7 separate regions of the Homo sapiens genome follow, and regions 2, 3, 4, 5, 6 and 7 are each reported to be linked to region 1. Evidence: microRNA targets listed by miRTarBase, many of them from high-throughput screens and not tested one by one. Region 1 holds a microRNA gene; each other region holds the end of a gene's coding sequence.
The links. Region 1 holds the annotated microRNA hsa-miR-6825-5p (UGGGGAGGUGUGGAGUCAGCAU, at 1,502-1,523, opposite strand). A microRNA usually pairs through its seed, bases 2 to 8, with sites in the 3' UTR of a target mRNA and lowers its output. Matches are read on the target gene's strand: a 7mer-m8 pairs with bases 2 to 8, a 7mer-A1 pairs with bases 2 to 7 and ends in A, and an 8mer does both.

Region 1 (4,356 bases):
GAGGGGCATGGAAGCCTCACTGAGTGATTCAGGAAGAGCCTTCCTCTCCAGGCTGATGGGGCCACCAGATAAGGAAGGAATTGACCAACAGTCGCCTGACACCCACTCTGAGTGGGCCTGTGAGCTGGACCCCAGAGCCCATCTAGACTTGTTTTGGAACCCAGCCCTCCTCCCCCTGGCTGTGTGAGCTCAGGCGGGGGGCATCTGTGCCTGCTTCCTCATGGTGAAATGGGTGTGTGGACACCGTGTGGAGGAAGAATGGACATAAATCATGAGGCTTCAACAGTGCCTGCCCAAGCACTCAGGAGACATTGGCTGTGGCCTCCGCCCCCACTCCTGTGACCCCTGCTGCTCATGTTACCACCCACTCCACTCTGACCTCGTCCCTCGGCCCTCAGGGCAACTCTCCAAGGGGGACACACTACACCCAATTTACAAAAAGGAGCCTGAGGCTCAGGGGAGAAATTGTGTGCAAAGATCCAAGCTGGGGCCATGGACCAGTCTGGCCCTCTCCCAGCTTCACCCAGGTGGGAGGCTGATCCCCTCCCCACAAGACCTGGCAGGTGAGAAAGGGGGGACAAAACACCCACATTCCGACCACATTAAGGTCTGGAGTGGGACCCCCAATCCCATGTCTTCAGCATCCCATCTCACAGACGCTTCTGCAGATGCACATGTGCACAGCAGTGTACTCACCCCCAGAGAATCCAACTGACTTCCCACCCCAAACCTGCTCCCCACTTAAGTCTTCCCCCAACAGGGTACAAGCTTTGTGAGGACAGGATTTGCATCCGCTGTGGGCCTCGCATCTTCTGGCTCTAGCAGTGTCTGGCACACAGTAGGTGCTCAATGAATGCTTGCGAATGAATGAGTTAATATATTATTAAATAAAAACCAGCAATGTAGAACACCGTGCATAGTCACTCTCTCTCTCGTGGGGAGAGTATGTCTGTGTGTACTGTACATACAATGTGCATATATATGTATGTATATGTGGATATGTGCATATATCTACATGTATGTATATGTTGAGCACGTGTTCATGTGTGTATGCATGCATGTGGGTGTGCACGTGCATGTTTGTGTGCATATGCCCGTGTGTATCCGTATGTGCGTGTTTGTGTGTGCATGTGCATGTGTGCATGCTTGTGCATCCGTGTGTGCATGTGCACGTGTCCATGCACATGTGGGTGGGTGTGCGTATATCTGTGTGCATGTGCATGTGTATCTGTATGTGTGTGCCCAAGTGCATGTATGTATGTGCGTGCGCATGCGCACTGTATGCATACACAGCCTCTCAGCTTCAATCCTCACACCCATGCTGGAAGAAGGCGCAGTTCCGCCGGCAGCCACGCGGGGGCGCCGGCGGCCACAGACTCACCCGAAGAAGCCCCGGAGGAAAGCCACGTAGATGAGCGGAGCGAAGAAGCTGAAGTACAGGAAGGTTGTGGCATCTACACAGCTGCGGAGAAGGCGGGTCAGCGCGGGGCCTCCTAGCCCCATGCTGACTCCACACCTCCCCATGCCCCCAGCGGGTGGACACCCTGCCGCCCACTTCCCATGCCCCCACGAGGCAGACACCCTGCGGCCCCCACGCACCAGAGCCCCTCGATGATGTCGAAGCACAGCAGCACACTCCCCAGCCCCTGCAGTAGGTTGAGCAGTGCCAGGATGCCCGCATACACGTAGAAGCTCCTCCGAGCTGGGGGCCGGACAGGGTGGGTCGTGAGGTCCCACCCTGGACAGGCCAGGCTCTGCCTCCAGCACCTACTACCCTCAAGCCTGGTGTGTCCCCCGGGGCCCCTCTAGGCCTCCCTCTCACCCAGGGCTCTCCAGCTCCCAGCCTGGAACTCTACAGCTCCAGCTCCCAGCTACCAGCTCTACAGTGGCCCGGTAGACTCCCTCCCATCCCCGCCTGTCCCAGAGCCGCCGGCCAGCTGCTCACAAGGCAGGGAGATGCGCTCCTTCAGCGGGGTCTTGGGAAGGATGACCACCAGAGAGTAGACCTACAGAGACAGGCAGGGCTGAGAAGGTGCTGGGGGCGCCAGCCCAGACCCACAGCCAGAAACCCAGGAATCCAATCCCTACCTGGCCCTAAGGCCCCAGCCACCCCAGCTGCCCCAGCCTGAACCTCACCAGGAAGAAGAAGCAGGAGCTGACCAGCCAGAACTGGCGGCCCCCATGGCCATAGATATTAAAGTCCTCAGCTGAGAGATGGGCATCAGGGTACAGGATCTCCAGGGTCCCCTGCAGGGGCAAGCAGGAAGGGAGGAAGGGAGAGGATCTCAAGGCTTCTCTCTCCCAGGGGCTTTCCCTGATGCAAAGCCCCCTAAGCTCTCCACCACACCAAGTTCAGCCTCTTGGCCTGACCCTCAACTCACCTGCCCCAGTCTGCTCCCTGGCCATGTCCTGCCCAACTGATTGCAGCATCCAGAGCCGGCCCAGTCTTGGGCTGAGTCACATGGGGAAGGGGGCAGAGATGGACAAGGTGCAGTCCCTGCCCCCAATCTAAGAAAGGGGCCTCTAGATGCATGCTTCTCAGGGGGGTCTGCGGACCTGCACCATCCCTACCTGAACTCCTTATTAAAACGGCAAGTCCTGAGCCTCCCATCCTGGCGCCCTGGCCCACTGGATCCAAATCTCCAGGGGACCCCAGAATGTGCCTCGGTAACAAGCACCCCATGTGATTTCTCAGGTGCAAAGTTTTGAGAACTCTGAAGGTGATAAAGACTGGAAACCTGACCCAGACCCAGAAGCAGTGGGTGCCTGGTGCCCTGACTCCTAGCGTCCCCTGCCCACACTCACCCTCTTACCTGGGTGACAGAGTAGGCCAGGGACAGCACTGTGGTGATGGCCAGCACCCGCTTGATGCTGGACTTACTCTCCAGGTGGCCTGGAAGAAACATGCTGGTCAGCAGGCAGGAGCCAGCCCAGGTGACCACTCCAGAGTCAGCCCACAGCCAGGGAGGGGCAGGGGAGAGCATCGCCAGGGCCCAAGAGCCCAGCGGTACACACACCAAAGGCCAGGCCCAGGATGATCACACTCAGCTCGATGGCCAGCAGGAAGAAGCGGGTGATCTCCCACAGGATCTGCACGCAGAGTGGGCACAGCGTCAGCCTGGACCAGCATCCCCAGCCCACCCCAGGCCAGGCCTCCCTGGCCTCCCTCAGAGGGCCCAGCCGCACCTTATCAGCAACAGTTGCAGCGTTCGAGGTGCTCACCGTCATGGATACCACGGCCCGGGCAATGCCCACCAGCGCCACCACAAACACCTGGTGGGCAAGGGAGTGGTGTGGCAGTCAGGGAACAAGAGCCTCTGCATCGGCAGGGGCAGCAAGCCCACCCCCATATCTACAGGAGCCTTTGATTCCTGAGGTCGGAAAGGAGGAAGGCGCAAAGTCAGGGTGGGACACAGGGAGGTGGGGATCACTCCAGGAAGCAAGGCTCACAGAGTTGCAGACCCTCAACTGCAGGTGACTTCCAGCCTGGCCCTCCCTCTCGGGGCCCCAGCTTCCTGGCTAGCACCAACAGCCTTGGGCTGGTGAGCAGGAGTGCGCATGGTGGAGCCAGATGGGCCAGGTTCACATCACAAGCAGCACGCTGCTGCTTCCTGGCTCTGTACCTTAGCTTTCTCATCTATAAAATGGGGGCAGAAACAAAACCTACTGTGTTTGATTGTTGGGTCAAATGGATTAACAGATGCAGCAGAAGCCTGCCTGGCACCCAGGAAGGGCCAAGTATACATTTGCTGTTATTACCGTATTCATGGTTTTAATTCTGAGGCATGCGGGACCAGGCAAAAGGTCACCGAGAAGAGGTGCAGAGACCTCTAGGGAAGCCACCAGCCCAGCAGGTTTCACAAAGTGCCTGCTCAGCATCTGTGGTGCTTATCGGCCTGGTATATCCATCCCCTTCCTCTCCCTTCTCACCCCCACTTCGGTGGTTCCAGGTGAGGCTGAGTCCACCGCTCCTGGCTTCAGGGATGGGCCTGGGACGCAGCACTGGCCAGTGGTGTGTGCCATTCCCCTGGCCTCAGGGCTAGTTCAGGGAAGGGCATAGGCCCCAAGGGAGCCTTGTGAGAGAGACCCAGGATGTCAGGTGGGGCTGCTGGGAAAGGCAGACGGACAGCATGCAAGCCTGGCACCATGGACACCACCCTGCTGCCACAAGGGCAGATGGCGAGAGAGCAGGGCCATCGGGGAGATCCCAGGCTGAGTGGGAGATGGAGATGGTGCCCCAGCAGCACTGCTGTGCCCCCAAATCCTGCTGTGCCTGAGGCCCAGGAACTGCCCAGTTTCTCAGTCAAAAACTGGCTTCTGTGAGTCTCAGTTGGGTCTTCTGACACATGCCCAGAT
Region 2 (4,356 bases), not on the chromosome of region 1:
CACAGCAATCTCTTTATTGTGGCTTATTTGCTGCTTTTAAGGGTCTCTCTTACTTAAATGCTGTGGGTCTTAACAGTGTTTTCTTCCTTGTGTTAGATGTACCAAAGCTTCAGCCTCATCCGGGATTGGAGAAGAAAGAAGAGGAAGAAGAAGAAGAAGAATATGATGAAGGGTCTAATCTCAAAAAACAGACCAATAAGAACCGGGTGCAGTCAGGCCCCCGCACACCCAACCCCTATGCCTCGGACAACAGCAGCCTCATGTTTCCCATCCTGGTGGCCTTCGGAGTCTTCATTCCAACCCTCTTCTGCCTCTGCCGGTTGTGAGAACAAATGACTATCCTGAACAGGGTGGAGGGGTGTGGGAAAGAAACCAGCCATATTGGTTTTGGTTTCTGTATTTTTCACAATGATTAATGAACAAAAACAAAGAGAAAAAAACACACATCAATTAAAGGAGACAAAAAGAGGCAGAGCGAGTAGAGAGCAGCCCTCATTCACCACCTGGTCCCAGACGTGCTTCAGTCCTCGTCCTCTCTTTGTGGCTGGCTCCCAGCCTTCTCTTTCCTCTTGAGGATACTTAGGGTAAACTGGATCCTTCCTGCTCAAGGATCCTCATTTGTATACCTAGTGGAAAGGACTCTGAACTCAGAGGAGTCACTGTTCCTTTTTTTAGGTTAGAAATTAACAGCAGGGAAATGCCATCTTATTACCTGAGACGACCAGCACTGGGAGTTAGGTACGGTCTGAAGTTATGTCTAGATAAGACTTCAGACGTCCTGGGATTGAAAGAATGTGTGTGAAGGGGTAGAATTTGTGCGGTAAAGACTTAAAAAAAAAAGTAGGGAGATTAAAAAAAAAGAAAGAAAATGCTTCCTTATCTGGAAGCCTTTCTGGATTAATCCAGTGATGGTCCCACCTTTAGTGTTTGAGCTTTGTCATTGCTTGTCTCCCTGGCATGTGCCAGTTATAGACTGTCCAGCATCCAAGACGTTTCGGTTATGTCGGGTCCTCAGATCGCCTCTGACTTGTTACCACAACAAATCATTTTGATTTCAGTGCCTGTTGGGGACTTGATTTCTTCTCAGTTTTGTTTGTTTGTTTGTTTCCTTAATCTGGCTCATTTGAAATTTCTTCTCCCTCTCAACCATCCCACTAAGTTATAGCCAAGAAGGGAAGGAGACACGGGGATTTGGGGTTCTCTGCTTGAATGTCTTCTCCTTTACCACCTCACCTTGTTGGTACCTCCCTCCCTGGATCTCTGAGCCAGCAGCCAGGAGGACCTGACCCAGCAGTTCTTTACTGGCCCCTTTGTAGGGCCTTGCTGCCAGGGGGCAGGGATGCTTTCCAGCCTGCAGCAACAGAACACTTGACCTTAAAAGTCTCTTCTGGTCTTTGGATTAGAAAAGGCTTATGTTAGCATAGCTTAAGAGCAACCTCAGAGATTTGAGCCCTACTAAGTGACTGACCACTGTTTAGAGTGTCTGGTATCTGATGTTCATTTATTCCCATGTTCTTGTGTGTCACAGTTCAGCCAGTTTTGGTTTATGCCTAGAGCTACTTCAAGGAACTAGACTAATTAGCTATATAGGCCCAGCGATGCTTCTTATTGATCTTAATAGTATGCCCCTCCTTCCCCTGTCCTTTCATTTCTCTATCCAAGTAGCAGTCAGGTTCTTGGTGTGATGGGACTGAAAGAATTCCAGTCAGCCAGAGCCTTGGCAGCTCTGAAGCTAACCTTAGCATCTAAGTGTCGATCTTGAATTCCCTGAAAAAATTTCTATAGGAAATGAAGCTTCCCTGGTCCCCTCCTTTCTGGCCATTGTCATCCATTTCCCAGTTAGGGCAACAATGAAGGAGGACCCAGCCAAGCTAGAAGGAATTTTGTGGATGGGAGACAGCAGGATTAGCTTCAGCTTGGGCTGGAGCAGTCAATATAGGATCTCAGGCCAGGCCCGCTTTTCTAGAATGTGTTTAATTTTGAGTTTGCTTTATTAGATATGTTTTTTAAGAGCTCTGTATATTTGAACTGCTCCTTATGTGACAAAATAGGTAGCTCTTGGGCTCATGTCCTGGGTTTTGGCTCTTTAATGATTACTCCAGGCCAGCATTTAGTCGTTTGAGAATTGTAGCCTGTTGTTTTCGCTGTGACTTGGGTCTCAGTGCTAGGGTATTGAGTCAGGCAGCTGGAGGGTTGTGGCCCGAGGCTGCAGTCAGAGGTATACTTCCCATAGTGCTTCACACAGCTCCCCTGCTTCTAAAGGATAAGGTACTGTAGCCTTGGTCCTGGGGACCACCTGCCTGGGGCAGTGGACATCCTAACTAAACAGGCTTCTGGCAGTAGCTTTGGTTCCTATCCCATCGAAATTCCCCAAAGCCCTGGGCCACTGCCATTGGGTTAGTCAAGATGAAGGAGGAGGACTGGCTGCCTCCATTTTGCCTTGTTTGTTAGTTTGCCTGGGTCTGTCTGAGGAAGGAGGGGGTCCCGCCTTCCACCTCAACACATCCCTTCAGTGACTCAGAGTCTCAGAAGGAAACCCTGACTCCTGGGGCCATTTCCTAATGGTACTGTAAGCCAAGCAGCTTTGCTTCTGCCTCTGTTTCCAAGCCCACCCTTTTCCCCTGAGCTCAGGGTTAGGGATGGGCGCTTTCCTCTCTGGTTGTGAACGAAAGGAAGGAACATCTTTCTATGGCTAACAAAAACTAAAGGGGAAGTGAGGAAACAGGAAGAAGTATGGTGGGGGCTGGGGTAGACTCCCCTGGAGCCAAGCCTATCCAGCTAACAAGAGCTCCCTGGGGCTGGTCACAGCTGGCTCATGATGCTGAACTTGAAAGTTTTTTTGTTTTTGTTTTTGTTTTGTGGCTCCTCCAAGATATAGGTACATGAAGTTTAGGTTAAAGGGGTGGGATTCTTTATTTTTATTTTTGTATTGTATGTGTCAAGAATTACTCTGTTGTTCACCTTTTGCTTTTTGCACTGTTTGTTCTCTTATCTGTATTTTGAGCTTAGTGCTAGGACTGAGAGGCTGCACCATAGGGAATGTATGGGAGATGGTGAGGGGTGCCAGTGAGGGGTGCGTGGAGGAGAGGCCTGGGCTCCTCTACTGGATCTACACTCTGTCCCAGGTTTTTAGATCCCACTGAGCCCAGCTGACTGAAAACAAGGACAGTCAGGGTGAAACTTCTTTTGCCAGAAGTGTGGCCTGAGTTGAATTTCTGGGAGGATGACGCAGATGTCTGCTGCAGAGCTGGGCTGAGAGTTCTGCAGTCTAGCTCTGACTTAGGTCAGGGGCCTGTTGGTCTCTCATTGGACGTTTTTGGGTCTCACTCATGCTTACTGAAACATTGTGCCAAGAAACTCTGTGGGATTTGTGTCCCTTAAACCAGACTCACTTTTCTGAAAAATCTCCATTGTTGAGGAGAGGCTGCTCAATCGACACCCCGAGTTCTCATGACTGGGAAGATAGTTTTCTTCAGGTGTCAATGGCGTTAGACTCCCAGGAAGACTAGCCCTGCCCACAGGGCCACCTGTTGGTTTGAGAGCGTGTTCGTGTTCTCTTGCCCTCCCTGCCTAAGAGCTACTGGGATCACGTTAGCGGGCATTTAGGCTTTGATGAGAGGGCACAGTTTGAGTTAGGTTTACCTCCCCCTTTCTGTGCCTGGGAACTGTTTGGTCCAGCTTTAGAACTGTGGTTTTGACTTCCTTATCTCTTGGGAGAAGCTTCTGTTTTAAGGAATTTCTCTTCCTTCTTCTCCTGCCTCTAGCCTCTCCTGGAAAGGCCTGGATATGGTTTCTAAAATCTCAGCTGAGAACTTCAGAAAACAGCAGCAGTATTTTCCTTTTCCTAGTGCTAAAATCCCTTTCCCTAGAAATTGGCTCACCTTGGGAAACCCAGGGAAAGAATCAGCAGGTTCTCTGCCCTCCCTAGGGGTTGGGGAAGGACCCACCCCGGTCAGCACAGTGCCTTTTCCTCTCCTGCTCTGAGCCAGGGTGGGGCATTCCCTCTAGATTCAGGTTTGGGCAGGGGTCCTATAGTCCCTGCCATGGGGCTGCTTCCCTGTCCCTTCCCTCCCCTTTGCTGGCCTACTCTGGCATAATTCAAGTGTCTTCTTGCCTTGGGGATCCTTAGTGGCATCAAATGGCAACATGGAATATTGTCCTCCATGCCCCTCCAGAAGGACCTAGGAGAGTAGGTGAGCTTTCCAAAGTGAGAGACGAATCTTTCTTTCTTTTTTTTTTTAAAGGGCAGGATGGGTATGCTTTGGGCTTTCTCCTTCTGTGGCCCCGGAGGAAGGAGAGACTGAGGCAAGGCAAAGTGATAGTACACGGAAGCAGAACCGGAAACACCCAGGAACT
Region 3 (4,356 bases), not on the chromosome of region 1:
GAAAGGGGCGGGGCACCACATGTAAATCACCGGGAAAGGGATGGGACACAGGTAAATCACCCGGAAAGGGGCGGGGCACCACATGTAAATCACCTTAAAACGGACAGGGCACACATGTAAATCACTTGGGGAGAGGCACACACGTAAATCACCCGGAAAGAGGCAGCACAAAAGTATCACTGGGAAAGGGCCAGGGCACGCATGTAAATCACCCGGAACGGGGCGGGACACATGTAAATCACTTGAGAAGGGGAGAGGCACTCGTAAATCACCCGGAAAGGGGCGGGGCATTACATGTAAATTACCCTGAAAGGAGCGGGGAACATATGTAAATCACTTGGGAAGGGGAGAGGCACACATAAAAAAAAAAAAAAATCACCTAAAAGGGGTGGGGCACTCGTAAATCACCAGGAAAGGGGCGGGGCACCACATGTAAATCACCGGGAACGGGGCGGGGCACTACATGTAAATCACCTAAAGGTCGAGGCACACGTAATCATCCCGAAAGGGGCGGGGCATTACATGTAAATCACCCAGAAAGAGGCAGCACACATCAATCACCGGGAAAGGGGCGGGGCCAGGCTCCCAAGAGCTCCGGGAGACCGAGACTGCCGCAGCCTTTACGCAGCTTGCTTTCCTGGCGCTGGGGGAGGGCGCAGCCGGGAAGTCCCAGAGCAGCGGTGTCAGGCTCTCCACCAAGGAGGGACTGGGCCAGAGTCCTCGCGAGGGCACGCGGCGTGGTCCCCAGAGCTAGGCCGGAGCGCGGGCCGCTGACGCCACTGTCGGGTGAGGCTCGGTGCATCCAAGGGGAGCCGCCCTCCGTGCGGGGCGACCTCGTCTGCGCGGCGGGCGTGCCAGTTCCCCGCACCCATGGCAGCGGCCAGAGAGCCGGAGTTGCCGCAGGAAGCCCCCGCCACGGAACCCGCGCCCCCGCCGGCCTGCCGCTTCTTCCTGGAAGGCCGCTGCCGCTTCGGCGCCCGCTGCCGCCAGCCCCACCCTGGGGCGCCGGCGCCGCCTGGCCGCGAGGCGCAGCCGGAGGCCGGGGCCAAGAAGCCGCCGCTGCGCACAGCCGCGGACGTCATCCAGCGCATCCGCTGGGACCCGCGCCTCGACCCCGCCGACTTCTCGGTGGGCTACGTCGACCGCTTTCTGGGTGTGCGCGAGGAGCCCTTCAGCGCCTTTTGCTGGGACCAGCCGCTGGCGGCGCTCGGGCCGGGCGTGCTGGCAGTGCCCCAGCACCGCGTGCGCTTCTTCCGCTTCCGTGGCCGCCTTGTGTGGGACCGCGCCTCGCGCACCGACCTCGTCTTTGGCTCTGGCTCGGCGGCGGGACGCGGGCCCACCATCCTGGACGCACCGAACACCGAGGGCGCCCACGGGGCAGAGGGTGCCGAGTGGACACTGGCGGGGACAGGTCAGGAGGCCCAGGCTGCCCCCAAGCGAGGGAGCACAAGGCCGCTCTGCACAGGGCACCAGGAACCAGGCGTGGAGGAACCCGGAGAGCTGGAGGCGGCCCAGGAGAGGGCGCTGGGCACAGCTGCTGATTTGGGAACACTGGCCCCAAGAGGACGCCTCGCCGGAGTGACTGAGGCACTGAAGCCAACAGCAGCCACCAGGACCACATTGCTGGGGGGCAAGGAAGCACAGGCCCTGGGAGTCCCGGGGGGCTCCGCTGAGACGACAGAAGCCGAGTGGGGTCCTGCGGCCTGGCCCGAGGACAAAAGGGCCCGCCTTAGTGTTGCAGCCCCTTGCCAACCGCGCCCCACACATTTTGTGGCCCTCATGGTGACCGAGCCTGGGCTACAAGCAGAAGTGACCAAGGCCCAGGAATACCTGGTCCACGTGGCCCCACACTGCGCCAACTTCCTAGTGCCCTCTCAGAACCTACACCTGACCCTGGCCCTGCTGCGACTGGCAGGCGCTGGGGAGGAGGCCGCTGCCATTGGAGCTCTGAGACGGGCCCTCTTGGCCCCGGGGCTAAATGCACCCCCTCGGCTGAGCTTTAGAAAGCTGGTCCTCCTGGGCCCGCATGTGCTGTGTGCCCCACCCTCTCCCACACTGGAAAGCATGGCACAAGTGCTGAGCCAGAGGCTGGAAGCCGAGGGGCTGAGTACACTACAGTCTCCAGGGCAGCTGCACCCCCACCTCACCGTGGCCAAGGTGCCCCATGGTTCCCAGGTCCACCTCCCCAAGCTGGAGTTCACCCTCAGCCAGGAAGTGGGGTGCCAGCCCCTGCAGACACTCTGGCTGTGCCGTATAGGGAGGACAGGGGGGCCTTTCCAGCCCCTGGCTGAGATCCCCCTGGAGTGACACCCCCAGACCTCTGGAGGAGACAATGGATGCAAACAGCCCACACAGGAAAGACAAAGCAGGAGCGTGCACGCTCTCTCTTTCTCTCTTTAATTTTGGTTTCTCTCAAGCTTCCAAATGGTGCTCAGTGCTCCAAGGAAAGGAAGGAAGGAAGGAAAAGGAGGGGAGAGGAGGGGAAGGGGAGGCAGAGGAGGAACATCTGGAAAAAAAGCAGCCTGACAGTCCAGCTGTTTGCAAACTCATAGCACATCCTCCAGTTACATGGCAGAAGAGGGAGGGAGGGAGGGCCAAAAAGAAAAGGGAGAGGAGGAAGAAAAATAACTTAAATAAACACACACACAAAGAAAAGAGAAGGCAACATGACGTGAGCTGGTGATCCATGAAGGCAGGGAGGGAGGGGAACCGTTTTACCTGTGCTGAACCAAGGGAAGAATGCGGAGAGGGAGGGAGGGAAAGGGGAAAAAAAAATCAGAAGAAACACTGGGGGCAGAGGGAGGAGGGGACACGGAGACAACTTTATACAACTTGAGACGAGGCGGCCCGGCCGGCGTGTCCTCAGTGCGGTGTGGCGGCGGAGGATCTGGTGCTGGTGGTGCTGGCACTTCAGGGTGGGGGGCCGAGGACGGGCACAGTCTCTAAGCAGCTCCCCCACCCCAAACACGGAGGCCCCAAGGGGCTGGGAACAAGAGTCTGTGGCGAAGCAGGTGAGGCAGCGGGCGGTGGGCGGGCTTGCTGGGTGCCCCCGCCGCAGGCGGGCACGGGCTGGACGGCCTGTCTTCTTTCCACTGGCCCCCCGGCATGGGATGGGCCAGGGCGCCGGGTCGGGTACCGGAGTGCAAGCTCGAAAGAGAGAGAGAGAAAACACTGAGACAGCATTAGTGGAGTGAAAGGCGGACACAGATGAGCCTGCAGACCATGCCCCCAACCCTCCGCTGCCCATCCCCTCCTCCCCAATCCCATCCCTCTGAGGCAAAAAATAAAAACGTAGAAAAATCTCTGTACAGACTCCCCGGTGGGAAAACGGGGGCAGGGATGGTGGCTCTTCCTGGAGCGCACTCCCCACAAATAAATTTACAACCCAAGTCCACGGCTCAAAAACAGAATCCGCAAAGGCAGCGCTGGGGGCTGCAGCCCCTGCCCCCGCCCCTCCTCGCTGGGTGCTCAGAAGGCTGACAGCTGCGCCAGGCTGAGGCGGCAGTCGATGCTGGAGTTGTCCGGGCCCGTGTAGGCCAGGCCCAGGGGCTCTAGGAAGGCCCGGCAGGCGGCCTCGCCCTCGAAGGCCAGCTCGGCCTGCAGGTAGGAGACTGGCAGCGCAGGGCGGAAGCTATGGAGACAAGAGGAGAAGGTGATGAGGCGGGCGGGCGGGAGGGCAGGGGAGGGCCCCACGAGCGGGGAGGCCCCCCCATTCGGGTGCCCACAGGATTTCCTCAGCACAGTGCCTGCTGGCTCCCCACCCGCCTCCCAGCCTCCCCACCTCAGGGGCTCGGGGGGGGCCCGGGGGGGGTTAGTGACCCCAGTCCCCTGTGCCCCCCTCACCCTCACTTACCTGTGCGGGGGCCAGGGAGGAGCGGGGACGGGCAGGGAAGGGCCCAGCGGGCTCCTCCGCTGGCTGAGGGGCAGGGACCAGATGGAGGGAGCAGCACGTGGCAGGGGATGGGGATGGCGGGGCTGCCAGGGCCACCGTGGGGACCCAGCCCTCGCTGCCTCCCCTGCCCTGCGTTACAGTGTCTGGGAAGCCAGGCGCAGGGGTGCCAGCTAGCACTCACCACTACACACTGAAAGCAGTCACTTCCGGCTGCTGCTAAAACACACTACTGACTGAGCATCTAGCACGAGCCAGGTCCTCAGAGCTCCCTGAACCCTCTTCCACAGGGTGCAGCCCTACCCTTTCCACACACACAGGAACCCAGGCACCGAGTGAGGGGCACTAAGTCCTAGAACCCGCTTCTGCTCCAAAGCCAGAGCTTTCCTGGAAGCCCTGGGATCAGAGCCCACTCCGTCTCCCAGTCTCAGCTGGCAGGGCAGGGTCAGCCTCCTTGGGGGGAAGGT
Region 4 (4,356 bases), not on the chromosome of region 1:
TTTGACACTGGGTCTCTCTCTGTCACTCAGGCTGGACTGCAGTAGCACAATCATAGCTAACTGCACCTCGATATCCTGGGCTCAAGTGATCCTCCCACCTCAGTCTCCCAAGTAGTTGGGACTATAGGCATACGCCATCAGGCCCAGCAAAGTTTTTGTTTGTAGAGATGAGGTATCACTATGTTGCCCAGGCTGGTCTTGAACTCCTGGGCTCAAGGGATTCTCCCACCTCAGCATCCCAAAGTGTTGGAATTACGGGCGTGAGCCATCGCACCCAGACTTGAATTATTTCTTAGGTTGTTTCTCCTTGTGTTTTGTTCTGAAATGCTTATTAGATGGGTGTTGGCTCCTTGAAAATTTCCCCTGTGAATCCTTTTTTTTTTTTCCCTTGGAGTGGAGTTTTGCTCTTGTTGCCCAGGCTAGAGTGCAATGGCACCATCTTGGCTCACCCAAACCTCTGCCTCCTGGGTTCAAGCGATTCTCCTGCCTCACTGCCTCAGCCTCCTGAGTAGCTGGGATTACAAGCATGTGCCACCATGTCCGGCTAATTTTGTATTTTTAGTAGAGACGGGGTTTCTCCATATTGGTCAGGCTGGTCTCTAACTCCCAACCTCAGGTGATCTGCCTGCCTCAGCCTCCCAAAGTGCTGGGATTACAGGCATGAGCCACCGCGCCCGGCTTCCCTGTGAATTTTAATGGAGAGGGCTACCTTATTTCTCTAGCTCCTGGGAGAGTGCTCCCTGGAGCACCCAAGCCAGCGCTGGTAGGATCATCGGTGTTCGTGAAGGAGTGAGTGGAGGGGCACTCTGCGATAAGATTTCTTTTATTTATTCACTGTAGCAATAGTGTCCTGAATTAACTTTCTCTCCACTATTAGCACATATTCCTTTTATACATAGCCCTTTATAAAAATGAAAAAAAAAATCCCTTTTAAGCTGCTAAGTTCCTTTTTCCTCCCAGGGTGCCCTGAAAACCTTGAAGGAATTTTAACGAACGATGTTGGAAAGACAGGCGAGCCTCAGTCAGATCAGCAGATGCGCCAAGAAGAACCTTTGCCGGAACATCCACAGGACGGCGCTAAATTGTCCAGGAAACAGCTGGTGCTGCGGCGAGGGCTTCTGCTCCTGGGGGTCTTCTTAATCTTGCTGGTGGGGATTTTAGTGAGATTCTATGTCAGAATTCAGTGACGTGGTAGGAAAGAAAGTCAGGTCAAGTGATGCTTTTGAGCTTACACACAATTCACAGGCCCACCAGTGACAATTTACTGTGAGTTAATGTCATTCAGGTGTGCCCATGGATTTTGAGGGCTGGAAATGCAAAGACACATTTTTCTATAAAAAGAAAAAGCAACTAAGGTTAAAAGCTATATTGTGGCCCAAGACACTGTCTGAAAGATGACATGAGTAGTAATTCACCACTATCTGAACCAAGCAAGGATCAATGTGCTGACTGCATTGGCCAATGGCTTTGATACTTCTGCTATTTTTTTAGACACAAACCCATAAACTAACTGCTTAAGAATTCATACTGCTTGAATTATGTAAAATATATTTTACAGTATATCTTTCCTTGGGCCTTAGATTACTATTCACTGGGCAAATGGTATTTGTTTTTGTTTTAATTTTTTTTTTAATAGACGGAAGTCTTGCTCTGTCATGCAGGCTGGAGTGCGGTGGTGCGATCATAGCTCACTGCAGCCTCGAACTCTTGGGCTTCAAGCAATCCTCCTGTGTCAGCCACCAGAGTAGCTGAGACTACAGGGGTATGCCACCATGCCCAGCTGGCATTTGTTAATCTTCATTTGAGGTCTAGATCTAGGCACTGTGGACACTGAAAAACAGTTGGGAAATCTTTCGAGCTGTGGAAATCCAAACAAAGACTGATAATTCCTGGTAGGGGTGTGTGCGTGACGTACTGCAGCCTCAACCTCCTGGGCTCAAGTGATCCTCCCACCTCAGCCTCCTGAGTAGCTGAGACCACAGGCGTGTGCCACCACGCCTAGCTAATTTTTTATACCAGGGTCTACCCTTTGTTTCCCAGGCTGGTCTTGAATTCCTGGGATCAAGCAATCCTTCCACCTTGCCCTCCCAAAGTGTTGGGATTATAGGCATGAGCCACCACGACTGGCCAGAGGACAAAATTTTAATAAAGGTCTTAGCTTAAGCAGTAATCCTACTTCATTAAGCCTTCCTGGGGTGCGGTACACACCGTTAATTCAGCAACCCTCAGTACATACTAAGTATGCTCAGTGCTGTGAAAGTGGATTACACCAAATTAAGTCATTCTTATCACACCCAATCAAAAGTCAAGAAGCCAGGGATAAAAGCACCTCAGGCACATAACATTAATCTAGTAATGTAATTCTCTGCACATCCAGCTGGTGAAACTGCGTGCTGTAAGCTGGGACCAGCTTTGTCCATAACTGCTGAGAGAACTTGCTGAAGCTCTAGGAATAATTTTGCCTGCCCGGTTGCTCACCAGTTGTAGCTTGCCAGCTCCCAACACCCTTCCTGGTGCCAATAAACTTTCTCAAAGAGCAATACTGACATTTCTTTTGATAAAACCTCCAGCCTTCTCTGTGTTGTTCCGACATACCGAGGACCAACTGGTCTACATGGATGCCCTGAACATGCAATTCTTTCTTCCAAAATAAAACATTAAATAGAGATTTTGCCTCTACATTTTTGACTTAGTGCTAGGATGGATATAATGCTCTAGGCATGGCCTTTTCCTGAAATAACAAAATCAGAAAAGTTACCTACTTTGAGTAAAAAACACCCAACTGCTGATTTTGGTTGGGGCCACCTTAAGGTATCTCTACCCTCAGTGCCTTGTTCTTGGGGCCACGAGGCCCATTCTCCAGGAAGGCAGGTAAAGGCTTGCACTGTGGCCCTCGGGGTTGGGCCTGGGGGCAGGGGGCAGACACCACAGAGGCCCCTCCCCAGCTCCTCGTCAGGAACCCTCGAACCCTGTCTCCATTCCCCTCGCACAGGACTCCCTGCCCTTCCCCTTGCCAGGTAGGGCAGGGACCCCCTGGGGATAAGAGGAGGTTCTTTCAACCACCAGCCACAAATAGCCGCGGCCAGGAGGCCACCCCGGGCCGCCAGGAGCAGGGAGGCTGGGGTCCCTGCGAGGCAGGACCCCTCCTCTCCCGGAAACACTGAACCCGCAGCAAGCCCAGGCCAGAAGCATGCCAGAAAGCGCCAGCCCTGTGCTCCGCGGGAGGATGGAATCACCAGCTCAGTCCTGTCTGCCCACCCTCTAGGCATTTTGCTCTTCCAACCTGACCTACAAACTCTCCTGATAAAAACCCGTGTCATCCAAAAGCACACGAGGGGTCCTCTCACGCAGGGACCCCTTCCCCGAGCCCCCTTCATAAGCCCCCAAGGGCCCTCCCGGTGCCCTCCCCCAGAGTTCTGCGGGCGGCGACCATTGCCCTGGGCGTCTGGAGCGGGTCCGGGACGGGGAGGGGCGGGGCTGGGTGGGATCGGGTCGCCCCCCTCACCCCCACACCGCGCTGCGGTCCCGCGCCCGCGCCGCCGCCAGCCGCTCCCAGCCTCCGCATGGAGGCCCCTGCGGCCGCCGACGCCCCGGTCCCCGCCGAGCTCCCCGCCGCCGCCAAGGACCGGCCCCCATAGCGGCTCCGGGCCCTCGGATGGCGTGACGGCTTGTGGGGCCTGCGGGGTGCGCTGCCCCCGGACCTGCGGGGGGAGGCGGCTGAGCTGGCGGCGCTCGCGGGCCCAGTGGTGAGTGCGGCGTCCTCACGCCCAGCCCGACGCCTCCGGAGCGGCCGCCGCGCAGGGGTGGGCGCGGGCTTCCAGGAGGGAGGGCGGCTGTGAACGCGCCTTGCTTTCCGCGCCTCCGCAGTTTCTTGCGCAGTTGATGATCTTTATAATCAGCCTCGTCAGCTCCATCTTCTGTGGACATCTGGGCAAGGTCGAGCCGGACGCTGTCACGCTCGCCGTCACGGTGGGTGCCTGATTTCGCCCCTGTAGGAGCCGACGGGCGGCCAAGGGTTAGGATTTGAGCGGTGTCCCCAGGCGCTGTGGCTCACGACTGTAATCCCAGCGCTTTGGGAGGCCCAGGTGGGAGGATCGCTTGAGCTCAGGAGTTCGAGACCAGCCTGGGCAGCATAGCAAGACCCCCGTCTCTACTAAAAATACAAAAATTATCCCAGCGTGGTGGCACCGCCTATGGTCCCAGCTACTCGGGAGACTGAAGCAGGAGGATCGCTTAAGCCCAGCAGATCGAGGCTGCAGTGAGCTGAGACCGCACCACTGCACCCCGGCCTTGGCAACAGAGCAAGACCCTGTCTCAAAAACAAACACACAGGGCGGGGCGCGGTGGCTAACGCCT
Region 5 (4,356 bases), not on the chromosome of region 1:
TGCTCAGCATCTGTGCTCCTCTGTTCCAAGAACTTAAGGGGCCAAGGAGGCGAGCTTCTGGGGCCCCAGCCTTCAGCAGCGATCGTTGTCTCCCCTCCGCAGACATCAACGAGTGTGATGAGGCCGAGGCTGCCTCCCCGCTGTGCGTCAACGCGCGTTGCCTCAACACGGATGGCTCCTTCCGCTGCATCTGCCGCCCGGGATTCGCACCCACGCACCAGCCGCACCACTGTGCGCCCGCACGGCCCCGGGCCTGAGCCCTGGCACCCGCTGGCCGCCCACCCGCGCCCGCCACTCGGGGCCCCTGCCGCGCATCCTGCAGCCCGCTTATGCGTATGTGCACGGGGCCGCCCGCCTGGACCTGGAGAAGGGACCTACGGACGCCTGGAAGCTGCGACGCCCTGCACTGCTCCCGCCTCCACCAGCGCCTCCCACTGATGTCGTGGTCCCGGGCCTGGCCCAGGGGCCCCTTTACATGCCCTCTCCCTTTTATAAAATTTTCCATTAAAAACCACCTATTTTCTATCTTTTGCCTCCTCCTGTCTATTTCTCCAAGTCTACCCCAGTTTGTGCTTTGAGTCACTAAATGACATTCCCTTCCCTTCTGACCCCTAGTTTCGTCTGTCTCTCTGCCTCTCTTGGTCTCTGTCTTCCTTCTCTCTCTGTCTCTGTCGTTCTATCTCATCTCTGTCTCTTTCTGATTTGTTTTCTCTGCCTAACCTCTACATCCTGTCTTTTCATTTCTGTTTCTGCATGCGTCTTTCTCTTTTCCCTTCTCTTTGTTTGGTTCTTTCATCTCGAGAGCAATCTTGCCTCTGGATTTTTTTTTTTTTTTTTTTTTTTTTTTTGAGATGGAGTCTCACTCTGTCACCCAGGCTGGAGTGCACTGGCGCCATCTCCATCCACTGCAACCTCTGCCTCCCGGTTTCAAGCGATTCTCCTGCCTTAGCCTCCCAAGGAGCCGGGATTACAGGTGCACACTACAACCCAGGCTAATTTTTGTATTTTTAGTAGAGACGGAGTTTCGCCATGTTGGCCAGGCTGGTCTCAAACTCCTGGCTTCAGGTGATCCACCCACCTTGGCCTCCCAAAGTGCTGGGATTACAGGTGTGAGCCACCGCACCCAGCTTTTATTTTTTAGAGATGAGGTCTCCCTATGTTGCCCAGTCTGGTCTCAAATTCCTGGGCTCAAGTGATCCTCCCACCTCGGCCTCCCAAAGTGCTGAGATTATAGATGTGAGCCACCGTGCTTGGCCTAGAAGTCTTAAGCTGTCCTGGAACAAGTGGGGCAAGAGCAGGGAGCAGGAGTCCCTGGAGGGCCAAACCCAGACCTGACGCTCCAGCTAGGAGTTGGCTGTGGATGGAGTATGGAGCGGCAGTCCTGACAGCTGGAGGCGGGAATGAGCTCTGTGTGTGATGGTGGAGTGCCCAGCACGGACCTCCTCCATGTGCCCTGCCTGCTTACTGGCCATGTTCCTAGTCCAGACTCCTCCTCCCTAAAAAACAAGAACGGCCTAGATCAGCATAAACTTAGGGCAGGAGTAGGGGTCGGGAATCGTGGGTGATCAACTTGGCACTGGGCCAAGCTGGGAAAAAAAAAAAAAATGTACCTCAGCCAGGCGCGATGGCTCACACATGTAATCCCAGCGCTTTGGGAGGCCCAGGCAGGCGGATCACGAGGTCAAGAGATCAAGACCATCCTGGCCAACATGGTGAAACCTGGTCTCAACTAAAAATATAAAAATTAGCCCGCCATGGTGGCATGCAACTGTAATCCCAGCTATTTAGGAGGCGGAGATAGGAGAATCACTTAAACCCAGGAGGCAGAGGTTGCAGTGAGCCGAGATGACGCCACTGCACTCCAGTCTGGCGACAGAGCCAGACTGCATCTCAAAAACAAAAACCCACAAAACTGTACCTGTCATTCTTCACCCACCTGTCAATTCTTGTGTCCCCAGGGTTTCAAACTCATATGCTGCAAAGACCAGAACCGGAATGTTAGCAGGAAGCAGGGAAAATTGAGGCACACATTACCTTCTGCCTAAGGCTTGGTTAGACTAGGAAGGGGAATTTTCCCCATTGTTAATACTTTTTTTTGGCCTGGCGGGGTGGCTCACGATTGTAATCCCAGCACTTCGGGAGGCCAAGGCAGGATGATCACTTGAGCTCGGGAGTTTGAGACCAGCCTGGCAACATAGTGAGACCCCATCTCTACAAAAAAGTAGCTGGGTGCGATGGTACATGCCTGTAGTCCCAACTACTTGGGAGGCTGAGGTGGGATGATTGCTTGAGCCCAGGAGGTCGAGACTGCAGTGAGCTGTGATCGTGCCTCTGCATTCCAGCCTGGGTGACAAAGGCATACCTTGTCTCCAAAAAAGTTTTTTTTAATGTATATTTTTAATAACTATCTGATATTGTTTGGCTGTGTCCCCACCCAAATCTCATCTCAAATTGTAATCAGAATTGTAATCCGGGGAAGGACCTGGTGGGAGGTGATTGGATCATGGGGACAGTTTCCCCCATGCTGTTATCGTGATAGTGAGTGAGTTCTCACAAGATCTGATGGTTTTATAAGGGGCTCTTCTCCCTTGGCTCGCTGTCTCTCCTGCCGCCTTGTGAAGAAGGTGACTGCTTCCCCTTTGCCTTCTGCCATGATTGTAAGTTTCTGAGGCCTCCCTAGCCATGCAGAACTGTGAATCAAGTAAACCTCTTTCCTTTATAAATTACCCAGTCTTGGGTGGTATCTTTATGGCAGAGTAAGAATGGACCAATAGGGCCGGGCACGGTGGCTCATGCCTGCAATCCCAGCACTTTGGGAGGCTGAAACAGGTGGATCACCTGAGGTCTGGAGTTCAAGAGCAGCCTGGCCAACATGGTGAAACCCCATCTCTACTAAAAATACAAAAATTAGCAGAGCATGGTGGTGGATGCCTGTAATACTACCTACTCGGGAGGCTGAGGCAGGAGAATCGCTTGAACCCAGGAGCCGGAGGTTGCAGTGAGCTGAGATTGGGCCACTGCACTCCAGCCTGGGTGACAGAGCAAGACTCTGTCTCAAAAAAACCAAAAACAAACAGAAAAAGACTAATATAGTACCCTATGGGGCCTATTTGGCCTATGAGGCTCCAGTTTTAATCCTCTAGGCACTGCTGAAATTGCATAAATTGTGGATTGGAGGCTGCTTCCTGACCTGATCTCCAGCCCACCCGCTGAGTGTCAGGAGGGGTCACATGCCCAGCAGCCTCCTGTGCTACATCGGGGAATCATACTAAGAGCGCCTACCCTGCAGGATTGGTGGTGGTGGTTAAATGAATTGTCATATATGTGCTTAGAATGTCACCTGGTACAGAGCAAGGGCTCAGTCATTGTTGGCATAACCCTGGGCCTCCCAGGATATGCTGAGCCCTGTGGCTGGGCAGATAGTAAGGTCTTGTTCTTTTCTCTTTTCCTTTCCTTCTTCCTTTTCTTTTCTTTCTTTCTTTCTTTCTTTTTTTTTTTTGACATAGGGTCTTGCTCTGTTGCCCAGGTTGGAGTGCAGTGGTGCCACCATGGCTCACTGCAGCCTCAACCTCCCAGGCTCAAGTGATCCTCCCACCTCAGCCTCTCAATTAGCTGGAACTGCAGGCATGTGCCACCATGCTCAGCTAATTTTTTAATTTTTATTTTTTGTAGAGAGGGGACCTTACTGTGTTGCACAAGCTGATCTCAAACTCCTGGGCTAAAGTGATTCTCCTGCACTTTGGCCTGCCAAAGTGCTGGGATTACATGTATGACCCACGGCACCTGGCCTGGCTAGGTCTTTTTCTTTACCAATTCTCCCTCCCAGGGTGGAGGAGGAGGCCAGACCCCATCCCCTTCAACAGGACAGTGAGAAACACCTAACACAAGGCCTTGGTGGGGAGGAGTGTCAGACAAGGAGTGGCTCAAGGCTCCACAAAGGGGTGACAGTTGCACAAAACTGTCTGTACCAAAAATCATTGAATTATACACTACACATGGGTGACTTGTGTGGTATGTGAATCATAAGTCAATAAAGCCCTTCTTTAAAAACGCCGACTCTACAAAGCGTTTCAGAAAGTTACCCTCCAGCTGATACAGGGAACCCGACCCAACCACTAATTCCTCAGTCATTCATTCAACAAATATTTTCCTGCTTTGCAATAAGTGAATTCGAGGAACACAAACTTTAACCCAGCCTTGGGGGGTGGTTAGGGAGGGCTCCTGGAGGAGGAGATGTTGGAGCTGAGAGTTGATTACTGTAGGGAAATGAGCAAGATGAAAGGGGTGGAGGTGCCTATAATCCCAGCTACTCCGGAGGCTGAGGCAGGAGAATCTCTTGAACCCGGGAGGCAGAGG
Region 6 (4,356 bases), not on the chromosome of region 1:
ACATTCAAGGTTAGTATTGATGTATGCAGATTTGATCCTGTCATCATGTTGTTAGCTAGTTATTATGAAGACTTGTTTGTGTGGTTGCTTTATAGTGTCACTGGTCTATGTACTTAAGTATGTTTTTGTAGTAGCCAGTAATGGTCACTCCTTTCTGTATTTAGCACTCTTTTTAGGTTATTTTGTAAGGCAGGTCTGGAGGTAATAAATTCCTTTAGCATTTGATTATCTGAAAAGGATCTTATTTCTCCTTAGCTTATGAAGCTTAGTTTTCCTGGATATGAAATTCTTGTTTAGGATTTCTTTGCCTTAAGAATGCTGAATATAGGGCCCCAATCTCTTCTGGCTTGTAGGATTTCTGCTGACAACACTGCTGTTAGCCTGATGAGGTTCCCTTTGTAAGTGATCTACCCCTTCTCTCTAGCTACCTTTAACATTTTTTTCTTTCATTTCAGCCTTGGAGAGTCTGATGACTGTGTGGCTTGGGGATGGTTATCTTGTGTAGTCTCACAGGGGTTCTCTGCATTTCCTGAATTTAAAGTTTGCCCTCTCCAAGGAGGTTGGGGAAGTTTTCATGGATGATATTTTGAAATATGTTTTCCAAATTGCTTGCTTTCAATGAGTCATAAATTTGGTCTCTTTACATAATACCATAATTTTCAGAGGTTTTGTTTAATTTTCTTCAATCTTTTTTTAATTTCTAATATGTGTCTAAGTTATTTCAGAGAACTGTCTTTGAGATCTGAGATTCTTTCCTCAGCTTGATCAATTCTGCTGTTAATACTTGTGATTGTATTCTGAAATTTTTGAAATGAGTTTTTCACCTCTATCAGATCAGTTTGGTTCTTTCTTAAAATGACCATTTCATCTTTCATTTTCTGTATCGTTTTATTGTATAGAATCCTGGAAATGGATTTTCACTTTTGCCTGAAGCTCAATAATCTTGGTTCCTATCCATATTCCAAGATCTATTTCTGTCATTTCAGATATTTCAGACTGGTTAGGAACCATTGCTGGATAACTAGTGTAATTGTTTGGAGGTAAAAATAGACGCTGGCTTTTGGAGTTGCCAGAGTTCTTGCACTGGTTCTTTCTCATCTGTGTGGGCTGGCGTTCCTTTAATCTTTGAAGTTGCTGTTTTTTGGATGGATTGTGTGTGTGTGTGTGTGTGTGTGTGTGTGTGTGTGTTTATCCTTTTTGATGCCCTTGGGGGTTTGATTGTGGTATAAGGTGGGCTCAGTTGACTCACTTCATTTCTGGAAGATGTCAGTGGGCCAAGGTTCAGCTCAGCATTCCCCAATTCTGGAATGCTATTATCAGGCCCCTAGCTTTGTTCTCTCACCCCTCGAAGTTAGGAACCTGCTGTGCTGGGGGTCCAAAGGTGTTCCTGGATTGCTGGCCACAACACTCCAGTAAGTGGCAGTGACCACAGTACTCTGTCAGGGTGATAGCAGTGGGATCTGTGCTCATGCCACGGCAGTGGCAGCATGGCTGGGTGCATGCTCGTTGGCTGGGGTGAGGCACTGACAGGCATGGGGATGCCAAACCCCATGACCCATTATTTTTTATATATGTTTTCTGCCCATTTTCTGCCTCTGCTCCTTCTAGAAAACCCATAATATATATATTGGCTCAGTTGATCATGTACCATAGTTTCCTTAAGCTTTATTTTCTCTTTTTGTTTCTTTTTTCTTTTTGTTTCTCTGACTGGATAATTTCAAATGACTTGTCTCAAACTCACTGACTTTTTCTGCTGCTTGATCAAGTCTGCTGTTGAAATTCTCCATGCATTTCTTCAGTTCAGCCACTATGTGTTTTTTTTTAACTTTAAAACAAATCTCTTTCTTGACCTTCTGATTTTGTTCACATATTGTTTTTCTGATTTCATTTAGTTGTCTATCTGTATTCTCTTGTAGCTCACTGAGTTTCTTTTAGACAATTGCTTTAAATTATTTGTTGAGCAGTTTGTAAAATTCTTTCCCCTTAAGGTCAGTTACTAGTCCTTTATTTTGTTCTGTTGGTAATATCATATTTCCTTGATTGTTTATGATACTTGTGGTCATGTGTCTTTGGTGTTTGACTTTTTGAACAAGTAGTCACTTATTCCAGTTTTTACAGACTGGCTTTAGCAGACAAAGCCCTTCACCAGTCAGTCATCCAGAGATTCTGGGCAGGCCATCTGGCTTGGTCTTTGGGCAGGCTTGCTGCTGGCATCCTCAAGTGGACCTATTGACTTGGTATACCAGGGTAGGCAGTCACTTCATGAGGGCAGGCCCGAAGCCTCTAATCACAGGAGCCAGACTAAATCCTACTTCCTGGAGACCAATCTGGCTCTAAAGCAGGCCTTGAACCCATGTCTTCAGGGGTTAGCCAGGCACTAGGACAGATGTAGTATCTGAGTCTCTAGGACAGGTCTGGAGTTTGAGTCTGTGCATACTGGGCTGGTACCTGAAACTACAGGGGCTGGTATGGAGCCAGGGTTAGTGGGGGTGGCCTGTAGCCTGGGACCATGAATGTCAACTTGCCTCTGGGGTAAGTCTGGAGACTGGATTCATGGGGCTAAGGCTGGAGCCTGAGTCGGGGGGGCTGGCCTGGTGCTAAGGTCTACTGTAATGAAGCTTGATCCTGGGTCTGCTGGAGTATGAGGCCAGACTAGTACCGAGTCCACAGAGCCTCGCCTGGAACTGGGAAAATCCAGAACTTGTGTCTGTGGGGGCTGGCCTAGTGACAGAGGCCACAGAGGCTGGCCTAGCATCAGGGCTTTGTGCTCAGATGGACCTAAAGGCTTGGGGAGGGTTTGGGATTTGACAGGACCGTATCCTGCGACTGTGAGTGTCAGTCTGGAGCTGGGGTCTGCAAGTGCTGGCCTGAAGTTGTAGCTGTGGGAGCTATCCTGGAGCTGTGGTGGGTCTGAAGGGCAGGTCCACATGGGCAGGCCTGATGTCTAGGATTTCAGGGGTCACCCTGGAGTCTGTGGCTGCAAGTGCTAGCTTGTCCTTGAGGTGGGCTTAGAGTCTTTGTCAGTGGGTGCTGGCCTGTGGTCTGGAGCTATGGGGAAAAGCATGATGCTGTGTGTGTCTAGAGCCTGCATCTTCTGGGGCAAGACTGGAGGCTGCAGTCATGGGGGCTGACCTGGAGCCTGGGGTCACAGAGCCTGGGGCCACAGAGCCTGGCCTGGCATCAAGGCAGCCTGGAGTCTAAGTCCAAGGGTGTCTGCCTGGAGTCAGAGGCCACTGGGTCTTACTGAGGCAAACCTAGTGTTAGGGTCCATGGAAAACTCAAGTGCTTATTTCACTCTCTTTCCCCAAGTTTAGGGAATGTCTCTCCATGCTGTGCTTACTGAGATTGATGGAGGGGTGATATAAATAATGTAAAAGTCTTCTTTCTACCCTCTTCGATGCATCCTTTCTTATTTTTTGCAACATTCAGATGCTTTAATCACTCACTTGGGATTGTTAGCTCTTGTGAAGGTATTTCCATTTTAATGGGTAGTAGTTCAAATGAATGTTTCTGTGAAGGTTCAAGAGCTGGAAAGTCCTATCTACCATCCTGCTGATGCCATTCTCTGAGAAGTACTATTCTAAGCACCATCAGAGCCTCCTAAATCTGTTCATGTCACACTGTCAGGTTTGGGCTACGGGAATGGGAGGGCAGTAAGTACGCGGGAGAGAAATGTCCTCATCTCTCCACAACACAAATCCTACATGAGCAGGACCCACACCCTCATCATAACACACTGGTAGGGATGCACACTTCATCATTTTCCCTAGAGGCCTGGGTGAATAGGGAAGAAGCAAGACCCATAAAGTTTCCTCCACTCAAACACTTTGTCCTTCTCAGAGTATGGCTATGACACTGGCATATACAAGACAAACAAGTGCAGACTAAAAATTTTATTGCTCTTTAAAGCCTTAGGCCGTATGACAAAATGAAGAGACTGAAATGACAGCGGGGAGGAAGAAACAGAAGAAAGATAAGAATGAGGTGGTCAGGTTGGGGGAATTAAGCGAATATTCTCTTCCAGGGTGAGTCCTCACACTGGTCTCATGCCCATGATGAGTTGCACACCAAACACAGGCTGCTGACTTCCCTCCTGCACTAGTCAGTGAACTTGCAGACATAGGGTAACCTCACATTACAGTTATAATCTTTCCACCTCAGAAATGCTGGAGAGACAGAAGACATAAATGGAATGGGGCTGAGGAAGCTTGTGAATCCAATGAAGGGGCATCCCAGGTTTTAGCCTAGAAGTTAAAGCCTCTCCCTCACCTTCACCAGTGTCCCAATCCAGGAGAGAGATTCAAAGAAAGTGGAGAAGAGAGGAGATAAGAGAAGACACACTAACATTGTATTTTC
Region 7 (4,356 bases), not on the chromosome of region 1:
GCTCTGCCCGTCCTGTTCTGCCCATGGCCCAGCCCGGCCGCTCCTGCTGACCCCTCCTGGACGGGCTGGAGCTGGGCTCCTGCCTTTGCTGCTAACACTGGAGGCGGTGTTCCTAACTGCAGTGTGCTGCTTACACCTCCCCGCGTGGGTAACCAAATTTTTAAGTAGTCAGAGACATATCGAGGTAGTTACATAAAATTATTTTGTTTGGCATTATTTTTCTCACTCGAAGAAACTATATAGGGTTGTTTTTCCTTTAGCTTGTGCTCAAGTCCTCTTGCTGTGTTTTCAGAAGCACTCACATGTTCTTTCTTTTCCTGAGTGAAAAGCAAAGGTCCCACGGTGTGTGCTGTGGTGCACCGCCTGGCTTTGGGGGTCCCGGAGGCAGGCTGCCTAGACTCACAGCCTCGGGACCGTTGCCACGGCCTGTCTTCTCGTTCAGGCCTGCCTCTGACAGCACTCACCATGAGGACATTCCATCCTTCACCCCCTCCTCTGGCACAGGCCACCACTGCGGTGCTGTGCCTTCAGATGGGAGGTGGGCGCGGTGGCCTCCTCCTTCCCTCCAGGACCTGCCCGTGTGAAGACCCCCCGGAGTGCTGAGCTTCAGGGCTGCGTGGAAAGAGTTTTTACTCTCTTTTTCTAGCCTGTATACCAGGCTTTTCCCCACATTGTCAGGTAGAGCACCAGCTTCCCTGACCGCTGCTGCTCGGGGAGGGCTGGGGCTGGCCGGGGGTCCTGTGGAGGAGTACATGGAGGACTCCAGGTACAGCGCAGGAGTCACGGCTTTTGTTTTTTGACATTGGCCCCCGGTTCTACCAATGACAGGGTGCCCTGGCTGGAGCTGTCATCACACACACCCCTCAGCTCGGAGGCTGTGGGCTCCTCAAAGCTGGAGAAAGAGGCCAAGATTTTTCTGCACACGGAGTGTGGGGATAGGAGCCGGGCCAAGCGCTGGCCCCTCAGCGGTGAGCCCTGCCCACTCTTACCGAGCAAGGTGGGTGGCTCTGGCACGAGTCCCCCAGGGGGAGAGCATGGCTACCAGGGAGCTGCAGCGGAGCCCTCCAGCCCTCACCCCAGGCCAGCCCCACCCCGGCCTCTTTGAGAATTCTCAGAACTTTGTACCTTTCCCCTGATTTTTAAACCCTTTTTCTAAACAGACTGACTTTCTTACAAAATGCATTTGGAAACCAGACCTTTGCTACCCACCAATGTCTCTGGGTTTTGTACCAGTCCCTGCTCTCAGGCCACCCTGCCCAGGACCCAGGCCCGCCTCCCCCTCCACACTCAGGATGTCCTGCTCCATCTGGCCGGCTCACTCCGTGTGGCCTGCCTTTGCTGACCGTTTTGGGGTTCCCCGCCGGAGCTACAGGGGCATTTTCTTCCCTAAAACCAACAGTGTCCCACTGACCTCCCCAAGTGTTTGCTGCGTGGCAGATTTCCTGTTCTTGTTCGCAGTTTGCCGACTGAAGAGTGTGGGATTTCCGAGGCCCAGGTGAGCACGTCCATCTCAGGAGGCGTGGAGGGAAAAGACATGTCATGAAGGGTTTTTTTTATGTGACTGATTTTTTTTTAAATCGATGTTCAAACTAATAAATATTTTTTTATGAAGAGGAAAAATGTGTAGATTACATTTCACATTTTGTATTTTTGTTTGTGTCTGTTTGTATTTTGGTGTTTACAACACCAAAGTGGGAAATACAGTCCATTGGGGATGGTGTTATTTGGGGGCGGGGAGGGGGCAGGGACACCACGATTTTTCTGTCAAGCTCTGGATCCTGACCAGGTTGTACACTGGGGCTCTCTGAGCTTTGGGACACAGGACACTGCCAGGGCTACGTAGGGAACTGACTCAGAAGACGCAGCTTACTGCTTCCAACTTTGCACATCTTCCTCTTTAAAAAACTGAGAAAATGCAAAAACTGGAACTTTTTGCAATATTATAAAAGAAGTAATCTTATTTTAGCTCATTCTGTGACATGTGCGACTCTTAAGAAAGCCATACTTAATGGTGGTGGTTTTTTTTAGATCTTATATTGTGTTTTGTATGCAGCCCTTTTAGAACTACTTGTAGTGAGGGTGCTGTGTGTGCTTTTCTTAAATATTTATTTTTTTCAACATGCTTTCAACCTGTCAACAAAAACAAAACACACAAAAAAAGGGCAGTGTTTGAAGATTGTTGATTTTTTTCTGGGGATAATCTATATTATATTGACTTCCTATTACTTATTATAAACCTGTGTTTGTATTGGAGATGTGTCTACTATTGGGGGAAGAGGTTCTCGTAATCGCTCGGTGGGAAATCATGGCTCTGCCGTCCTGCCTCTCTGTGGCCGTGGGTTCACGTGGCCTCTGCGGTGAGTCTCCAAGTTTCTGCCTAGGCGCCTGTGCGTTTCCTTTCTGTGACGGGATTAGCTTAGACATCCTTGCAAAGCGATCACTTTCAATAAATTGGGAAATTGCTGCTCCAGCAGATGCCTCCTGCGTCTCAGATGATCCTTCCTCCGGCCTCGCCTGGGGTGGCGGCGGCCGACGGGTGACCCTCGGCCCTCTGTGGGCAGCTGCCAGACTCCACCCACTTGCCCACCACAGGGTCCCAGCCCCACGGCCTTCCTCCCGAGAGGCAGACAAAGCTTCTGGAAAAACCTCAAATCTTTAATTTCTCTCTTCGCCTGGTGCAGCCCAGACGTGAGACACCTGAGCTTCAAAAACAAACATGGTAAAAACAGCCCCAGGGCCCGAGAGCCGTTGAGTTAAGTGCGAGTGGGGGAGTCCCCTCTCCAACACCCCTCAAAGTGCATCGGGACTGGCCCCCCAAAGCTGGGCCCATAACACCCTTGATAAATCTACGGGCCGACAGGCGGGAGGGTGGCTGCCCCCAGGGCCCTTGGGGCTAAGGGGACAGCGGTGTGGTTTGGCTTTAGTGCAAAAAGCTGGTTTCTTTAGAGGCACTTTGAGTGGTGGGACCCCTCCCCGACCTGGCGGGGGGGAGGGTTCAGGGTCAGCCCCGCCCCCCCACCCCAAGTAAAAGCAGACCCTGCAGCTGGTGAAAGCCAGCCCCTGGGGCTGTCCTCGGGCTGTTTCAGCCCCGGGCCTGGAGGGGGTGGGGAGGGAGAAGGTGGTAGCTTATGTTCTTGAACGAGCCGGACTTAGTCCAGGAACCGCTGGCAGGCTTTCTTCCAGCGGCAGGCTGTGCACCAGAGGTCCCGGCGCTCCATGCCATACACCTTCCGGCACTTCTTCGCGTCGCCGCGGGGCTTCCTGTGCGGGGGGTCACAGGACATGGGGTGCTGTGAGACCAGGACCCTCCCCACCTGGTGCCAGCCGCAGGCCCTCAGCCCACACGCACCTCAGGGTGACTCCGATCCTGGAGGACAAGGCGGGTGGGCAGGCTCCGACCTCCGTGGGCTGCGGCTCCAGGCGGGCGGGCGTCAGGCAGCCCTACAGGGAGACACAGCCAGGGCTTCACTCCCCTCCAGAGAGCCCTGAGACCCGCCCCAGCTGCCACCCGTGGCCTCACCCACCTGGTAGACACGGTCACTGTGACAGGACTGGGGGTTAGCAACGGTGCTCAGGACAGGGGGCGGGGGCAGGGGCGGGGCAGGCGGCCGCAGGGGACTAGGCAGGGCTGGGGGCTCCAGCAGCTCTGGCAGCTCCAGGCGGGGGAAGGCAGGCGGCATGGAGGCCGTGGGGGACACTGGAGTCAGGCTGGACAGCCCGTCGGTCAGCGTGTCCACACCAACATCCAGCTCTGTGTAGTAGAAGTCCTCCTCACCATCACTCTGCTCAGGCTCTGCCTGCCTCCTGCGGGAGACACAGCCAGCCAGTGGGAGCTGAAGGGGTGGCCTGGCCGGGCCTCACAACCCCAGCCAACCCGCAGGCCCCGCCGCACCCCAGGCCCCGCCGCACCCCAGGTGCACCAGGCGGATGTGTCTCTGCATCGCCGACGCCGTGCTCAGCACCTTCCCGCAGCTCTTCCACAGACACTGGAACATGACCTGGGCCGGGCTCTGCAGCAACAGGGGCCAGGGTCAGGCTCAGCCGCCACACCCGCCCCTCCCTGGGGGCCGCCCCCAAGCTCACCTTCCTTTTTCTCAGGGTGGGCTCCCCAAACAGAAAGTGGGCTGCCTCGGGGGGCAGTGGGGGTGACGGGGTGGACGGAGAGGACTGGTCACTGGCCAGGTCCCATCCCCAGTCTCCACTGTTGCTGCTGCTGCTGTAGCTGCCTGGGGGCCGCACCAGGGCCTCCTTCCAGGGCTCCAGGCCAGGCTCTGTGGGGACACGGGCCCCCCGCCTTAGAACTTCGGGTGGGTCCAGGGAGTCCCTAATCCTGAGCTGCCCCTGTTCACCAAGTCC

Region 2: miRTarBase lists MLEC as a target of hsa-miR-6825-5p. Seed matches in the 3' UTR shown: 7mer-m8 at 3,642-3,648 and 7mer-m8 at 4,068-4,074.
Region 3: the mRNA of LENG8 is a reported target of hsa-miR-6825-5p. Seed matches in the 3' UTR shown: 7mer-m8 at 2,486-2,492.
Region 4: the mRNA of SLC47A1 is a reported target of hsa-miR-6825-5p. The part of its 3' UTR that is shown has no 7-base or 8-base seed match.
Region 5: the mRNA of LTBP4 is a reported target of hsa-miR-6825-5p. The part of its 3' UTR that is shown has no 7-base or 8-base seed match.
Region 6: the mRNA of REG3A is a reported target of hsa-miR-6825-5p. Seed matches in the 3' UTR shown: 7mer-m8 at 3,951-3,957.
Region 7: the mRNA of SLC2A4RG is a reported target of hsa-miR-6825-5p. Seed matches in the 3' UTR shown: 8mer at 3,105-3,112 and 7mer-m8 at 2,987-2,993.

The regions. Positions count from the first base shown.
Region 1 is chr3:127,573,804-127,578,159 of GRCh38, forward strand. MIR6825 (microRNA 6825) reads right to left here and starts at 1,528; the gene lies at 1,463-1,528. TPRA1 (transmembrane protein adipocyte associated 1) reads right to left here. Exons shown (of 11, transcript NM_001136053.4): 4 at 3,187-3,273; 5 at 3,018-3,090; 6 at 2,814-2,893; 7 at 2,137-2,247; 8 at 1,946-2,006; 9 at 1,600-1,702; 10 at 1,382-1,462. RefSeq lists enhancers at 1,074-1,653, 1,654-2,232 and a silencer at 1,507-1,686.
Region 2 is chr12:120,696,220-120,700,575 of GRCh38, forward strand. It overlaps MLEC (malectin), which reads left to right. Exons shown (of 5, transcript NM_014730.4): 5 at 97-4,356. The coding sequence ends at 326. Among named protein-coding and RNA genes, the nearest start is that of MLEC, 11 kb to the left of the region's middle.
Region 3 is chr19:54,460,041-54,464,396 of GRCh38, reverse strand. LENG8 (leukocyte receptor cluster member 8) reads right to left here. Exons shown (of 16, transcript NM_052925.4): 16 at 2,381-3,631. The coding sequence ends at 3,469. It overlaps LENG9 (leukocyte receptor cluster member 9), which reads left to right and starts at 619. Exons shown (of 1, transcript NM_001301782.2): 1 at 619-2,665. The coding sequence starts at 871. The coding sequence ends at 2,307.
Region 4 is chr17:19,576,367-19,580,722 of GRCh38, forward strand. It overlaps SLC47A1 (solute carrier family 47 member 1), which reads left to right. Exons shown (of 17, transcript NM_018242.3): 17 at 961-2,668. The coding sequence ends at 1,187. It also overlaps the pseudogene SLC47A1P1. Among named protein-coding and RNA genes, the nearest start is that of SNORA59B, 21 kb to the left of the region's middle. RefSeq lists an enhancer at 1-31.
Region 5 is chr19:40,629,294-40,633,649 of GRCh38, forward strand. It overlaps LTBP4 (latent transforming growth factor beta binding protein 4), which reads left to right. Exons shown (of 30, transcript NM_001042545.2): 30 at 103-525. The coding sequence ends at 257. Among named protein-coding and RNA genes, the nearest start is that of LTBP4, 30 kb to the left of the region's middle. RefSeq lists an enhancer at 1,607-2,197.
Region 6 is chr2:79,153,128-79,157,483 of GRCh38, forward strand. It overlaps REG3A (regenerating family member 3 alpha), which reads right to left. Exons shown (of 6, transcript NM_002580.3): 6 at 3,879-4,166. The coding sequence ends at 4,099. Among named protein-coding and RNA genes, the nearest start is that of REG3A, 4.4 kb to the right of the region's middle.
Region 7 is chr20:63,741,784-63,746,139 of GRCh38, reverse strand. SLC2A4RG (SLC2A4 regulator) reads right to left here. Exons shown (of 8, transcript NM_020062.4): 4 at 4,084-4,271; 5 at 3,910-4,010; 6 at 3,525-3,804; 7 at 3,350-3,441; 8 at 2,090-3,261. The coding sequence ends at 3,150. ZBTB46 (zinc finger and BTB domain containing 46) reads left to right here. Exons shown (of 5, transcript NM_001369741.1): 5 at 1-2,470. ZBTB46-AS2 (ZBTB46 antisense RNA 2) reads right to left here and starts at 2,315. Exons shown (of 3, transcript NR_186425.1): 1 at 1,412-2,315; 2 at 465-612; 3 at 189-317.